2 separate regions of the Homo sapiens genome follow, and region 1 is linked to region 2. The links come from fine-mapping of genetic effects on gene expression. A gene starts in region 2. The other region holds a variant in brackets. All regions are shown on one strand. Distances are between the middles of the regions.

The links.
Region 1: its variant is fine-mapped to the expression of LIMK1 in whole blood (INTERVAL, PIP above 0.99).

The regions. Positions count from the first base shown.
Region 1 is chr7:74,133,405-74,136,301 of GRCh38, forward strand. No RefSeq gene overlaps it. Among named protein-coding and RNA genes, the nearest start is that of EIF4H, 40 kb to the right of the region's middle. RefSeq lists an enhancer at 1-446. The variant A/G (reference allele first, on the strand shown) is at 1,276.
Region 2 is chr7:74,082,569-74,085,465 of GRCh38, forward strand. It overlaps LIMK1 (LIM domain kinase 1), which reads left to right and starts at 1,236. Exons shown (of 16, transcript NM_002314.4): 1 at 1,236-1,477. The coding sequence starts at 1,423. RefSeq lists enhancers at 1-614, 610-719, 615-1,293, 1,780-2,049, 2,561-2,897 and silencers at 990-1,259, 1,380-1,429, 1,540-1,589.

The sequences.
Region 1 (2,897 bases), 51 kb after region 2:
CCTTTGTGGTGTGTGTGTGTGTGTGTGTGTGTGTGTGTGTGTGTGTGTGTGTGTGTGTTTGAGACAGAGTCTCACTCTGCTGGACAGGCTGCAGTAGAGTGATGGCATCTCGGCTCGCTGCAACCTCCGCCTCCTGGGCTCAAGTGATTCTCCTGCTTCAGCCTCCCGAGTAGCTGGGATTATCGGCATGTGCCACCACCCCTAGCTAATTTTTGTATTTTTAGTAGAGACGGGGTTTCACCATGTTGGCCAGGCTGGTTTCAAACTCTTGACCTCAAGTGATCTGCCCACCTCAGCCTCCCAAACTGCTGGGATTACAGACATGAGCCACTGCGCCCAGCCTGTTATCCTTTGTTTTTGGAAGGAAGCATTTGAAAAAGAGTGACTCTATCTTGAATAGGGGCTGGGTAAGATGAGGCTGAGACCTGCTGGGCTGCATTCCCAGTAGGTGAGACATTCTTATTCACAGGATGAGACAGAAGGTTGGCAGGACTGGTATCACAAGATACGGGTCACAAAGACCCTGCTGATAAAACAGGATGCTGACAGGGCACAGTGGCTCACTCCTGTAATCCCAGCATTCTGGGAGGCTGAGGCGGGCAAATCACTTGATGCCAGGAGATCAAGACCAGCCTGGCCAACATGGTGAAACCCTGTCTCTACCAAAAATACAAAAATTACCCAGACATGGTGGCAGGCACCTGTACTCCCAGCTACTCAGGAGGCTGAGGCAAGAGAATTGCTTGAACTCGGGAGGCAGAAGTTGCAGTGAGCCAGGATCGCACCACTGCACTCCAGACGGGGCAACAGAGCGAGACTCCATCCCAAAAAAAAAAAAAAAAAAGAAAACAAAAACAGGACGCAGTAAAGAAGCCAGCCCCAAAACCCACCAACAGTGATGAAACTGACCTCTGGTCATCCTCACTGCTCATTATACACTAATTATAATACATTACCATGCTAAAAGACACTCCCACCAGGACTATGACAGTTTACAAGTGCCACGGCAACACCCGGAAGTTACCCTATATGGTCTAAAAGAAGGAAGAACCCTCAGTTCTGGGAAATCCCTGCCCTTTCCTGGAAAACTCATGAATAACCCATACTTCGTTTAGCATAGAATGAAGAAATAACTGTAAGTATACTCAGTCAAGCAGCCCATGCCACTGCTCTGCCTATGGAGGAGTCACTCTTTATTCCTTTCCTATTCTTTTTTTTTTTTTCTTTTTCGAGACAGAGTCCCGCTCTGTTGCCCAGGCTGGAGTGCAGTGGCAC[A/G]ATCTTGACTCACTGCAACCTCTGCCTCCCAGGTTCAAGCAATTCTCCTGCCTCAGCCTTCCGAGTAGCTGGAATTACAGGTATGCACCACCACACCCAGCTAATTTTTGTATTTTTAATAGAGATGGAGTTTCACCAGGTTGGCCAGGCTGGTCTCGAACTCCTGACCTCAGGTGATCCACCTGCCTCAGCCTCCCAAAGTGCTGGAATTACAGACGTGAGCCACTGCGCCCGGCTATTCCTTTATTTTCCTGATAAGCTTGCTTTCAGGTCGGGTGTGATGGTTCACATGTGTAATCCCAGCACTTTGGGAGGCCTAAGTGGCAGGACTGCTTGAGCCCAGAAATTCAAGACCAACCAGCGCAACATAGTGAGACCATATTTCTATTAAAAAAAAAACAAAAACAAAAAAAACTTGGCCAACATGACGAAAACCTGCCTCTACTAAAAAAATACAAAAATTAGCCAGGAATGGTAACACATGCCTGTAATCCCAGCTACTCAGGAGGCTGAGGCAGGACAGTCACTTGAACCTGGGAGGCAGAGCTTGCAATGAGCTGAGATCAAGCCACTGCACTCGAGCCTGGGTGACAGAGCGAGACTCTGTCTAAAAAAAAAATACAAAATAAAAAAAAGAACTTATTTATGTAACCAAATACCACCTGTTCACCTGTTCCCCAAAAACCTGTTGAAACAAAAATAAATAAATAAATATAAAGAAATAATTTTTATTTATTTATTTTATTATATTTTGAGATGGAGTCCCGCTCTGTCGCCCAGGCTGGAGTGCAATGGCGCGATCTTGGCTCACTGCAAGCTCCGCCTCCCGGGTTCACACTATTCTCCTGCCTCAGCCTCCCGAGCAGCTGGGACTACAGGCGCCCGCCACCACGCCCGGCTAATTTTTTGTATTTTTAGTGGAGACAAGGTTTCACCGTGTTAACCATGATAGTTTCCATCTCCTGACCTCGTGATCCGCCCACCTTGGCCTCCCAAAGTGCTGGGATTACAGGCGTGAGCCACTGCACCCGGCCCCAAGAAATAATTTTTTTAAAAGCTGGGGTTTCCAAAAACCCTCTCCTGGAGTTAGATAATTTTCTAGAATGGCTCACAGAGCTCAGGGAAATACTTTACTTATGTTAAGTAATTTTTTTTTTATTTTTTATTTTTTGAGACTCACTCTGTCGCCAGGCTGGAGTACAGTGGCGCAATCCCAGCTCACTGCAACCTCCACTTCCTGGGATCAAGCGATTCTCCTGCCTCAGCCTCCTGAGTAGCTGGGACTACAGGCGCAGGCCACCACGTCCAGCTAATTTTTGTATTTTTAGTAGAGACAGGGTTTCACCGTGTTGGCCAGGATGGTCTCGATCTCTTGACCTTGTGATCACTCGCCTCAGCCTCTCAAAGTGCTGGGACTGATTACAGGCATGAGCCACTGCACCCGCTGCAACTAGTTTATTATATTCAAATTTTTTTACTTAAATTTTTTTTTTTTTTTTTTTTTGAGACGGAGTCTCGCTCCGTCCCCCAGGCTGGAGTACAGTGATACAATCTCGGCTCACTGCAACCTCCGCCTCCAAGGTTCATGCCATTCTCCTGCCTCACCCTCCCGAGTGGCTGGG
Region 2 (2,897 bases):
CAGGAGTTCAGGACCAGCCTGGTCAACATGGTGAAACCTCATCTCTACTAAAAATACAAAAATTAGTCGGTCATGGTGGTGCACGCCTGTAATATCAGCTACTCGGGAGGCTAAGGTGGGAGAATTGCTTGAACCTGGGAGGTGGAGACTGCGGTGAGCCGAGATCCCGCCACTGCACTCCAGCCTAGGCAACAGAGCGAGACCGAATCTAAAAAAAGAAAAAAAAAATCTAGTATTTTCTTCCCACCCCACGTAATTGTTTTGCACCCAGGGGTGAGTGCCCCCCACTTTGCAGACGTGCCTAGACCTCTCCCCACAAACATGATGACTAGAGTTGGAGCTGGGCTAGCGCTGCCTCTTGTTCACTGGGTTCACGTGGGCACGTGGCTCCACTCCGGTCACTGCTTCCTGGGCAGAGGGATGACGTGGAAGGTAGACCTAGGGGGGACAGGGTTGCTTCCTGCCCATGTCCAGCATTCTAGAATTGTCCACATCTAGGCAGGGCGTTCCACCATCAGTGCTGGACTGGACCACCCAATTCCTTTGGACGCTTGACTCAGCCCAAACCCGTGCTCCCTCCAGGACCCTGGGCAGGGCAGCCCCAGCTCCAGGTAATCGGCACTGAGAAGAGTACACCTGTCACCGCCTGGCAGGGGCTCGCTCCTTTCTCTGGTGCTGCTCATTCGCGAGGCCTGAGACGCGGACCGTCACCTTCCCCGGGCCCAGCCTGGCCTCAATGCAGGCCTCAGAGAGAGGGACAAAACCCGGCCCGCCTCCCTCCCCTCCCCAAGGCGACCACCAGTGTCCTGGGGGTCCACAGGGCCTCTCCAGCTCTGATCCGAGTTCCCGGCTGCAGCTGGTTTGGGTCTGTGGGGGCCTCGCGCAGGGAAGCGGAGGCCCCTTCTCTAGGCTCCTACATCCTCCTGGCCTGCCCCAGCAGAGCTAGCGGCCCTCCGAGACAGCTGGGCCTCGCAGCTCCCAGCCGAGGCCTGTCGCTGGGAGAAAGAAGAATGAATGAAGGGCGGAAGGGGCGGGGAGGGGCGGGGCGCGCCGCGCCAGCTCGCGGCGCCCCCAGGCCGGGCCGCAGCGGGGCGTGGCCTCTAGAGGCGTGGCCTTGGGCGTGGGGGCGGGGTTTTCTGGTGGGGGCGGGGCCGCGCAGGGCCGTTCCCGCCGCCGGCCGCCCGCGCCCCGCCCCCGTGCCGCAGCTCACAGGCCCCGCCTCGGTCCGCCCCTCCGCTCGCTCCCCAAGCCGCCGCGGCGCCGAGCCGGTTTCCCCGCCGGTGTCCGAGAGGCGCCCCCGGCCCGGCCCGGCCCGGCCCGCGCCCTCCGCCCCCGCCTCCCCGGGCCGGCGGCGGTGGGCGAGCTCGCGGGCCCGGCCGCCCCCAGCCCCAGCCCCGCCGGGCCCCGCCCCCCGTCGAGTGCATGAGGTTGACGCTACTTTGTTGCACCTGGAGGGAAGAACGTATGGGAGAGGAAGGTGCGCGGGCCGCGGGGTGTGGGGCGAGGGCCTGGAGGGGGTGCCCGGGGCAGCGTGGGGCACGGGAGGGGGCCGGGTCTGCCAGGAGGCCGCGCCCCTGCCTCCTCCGGGATGAGCTCGTCCTTACGAAGCCCGCAGGCCCCTCCCTGTCCCCCTCCCGCCCGGGATCCCCCTCCCCGGCCCCCGGCGAGCTGCCCTCCTGCGGGTCTGGGGGCCCCTGGACCCTTTTTCCTCCTCCCACGTCCCCCCGCGAAGGACTCCCAGACACTGCCCACCCCGCGTCGGCCTCCATCCGCGTGCTCTGTCCACCACCCGGGCCTCGCCCTGGGGCCACCCTTTATCCAGTCTCGGAAGAAAGAGCGGCTGGGGAAGCCGCAGCCCCGGGTCCCAGTGGCCGCCGGGCGCCTGCCCGGCTCTGTGACCTTGAGCCAGGCGCTGACTTCCTGGTCCTCAGTTTCCCCTTCTGTACATTTGGAAACTGGGTAGTTGCCCCCCCGGTGTCGGTGATTGGGGGCCAGATGGGTAGAGCGGAGATAGGCGTCCAGGAAGCCGGAGGCCGTGTACTGCGGGAGCCTCATCCACTCTCCCTGTCCGTGCCCCAAACCCGGTGCCTGCCCTCAGTCTTGGCTGGGAGCATGACTCATCCTAACCTCCTCTTTAGCCCCTTCTCCCTCACTGGGGCCCAAGGCGCAGTACTGCACTGCAGTTAGGGTTCAAGGACTCCCCCAGCCTAGGACAGGGTCTGGGGGCCCCTCCTTGGATCTCCTTCGCTGACCTGTCACTTAGATCCACCTGGCCCCAAGGCAGGGCCTGACTCCACACCTCCCCCTGCCACCAACTCTTCCCAGGCCCATGAAAACCTGATTGGGGTAGGGGCCCACCTTCCTGTAGCCCCTGCCTACCTAAGGTACCTGCGTCTTCACAGAGGGTCAGGCTGTTGTGGCCTTGGGACCTAGCTATGTGACTGGGCAAGCCATGCCATCTCTGGGGCTCAGTCTCCCCTTCTGTACAGTGGAGAGGGGCAGGTCTGGGGCATTTTCCAGGGCCCACCAGCTCCAAGGGTGCCAGGCCCCAAGGATGACTAAGCATGCCTGTGGCTGGCTAGAGGAGGTGCCAGGCCTCCCTGGGACAGGTGTCTGGGAGTACCCAGGTCTGCAGCCCCCTCCCCTTGCCAAGCCAGGGCATTCATTGCCAAGGATCTGTTAGGGCCGGCACCTCCAGGCTTCCTGCCCTTGACCTCCCAGCTGGCTTCAGCCCAGGATGCACTAATCCAGCCCTGTCCAGTCCCTGCCTTTGAAGGGCCCTCTTAGTACTTCTTCCTGGGCAGGAGAGGGAAGAAAGGAGGCTGTGATAGGAATGTCACCCACTGCCTTATCCCTAAAGCCACTGCTTCCTTTCTCCTCATTTACCTTGCCAGATC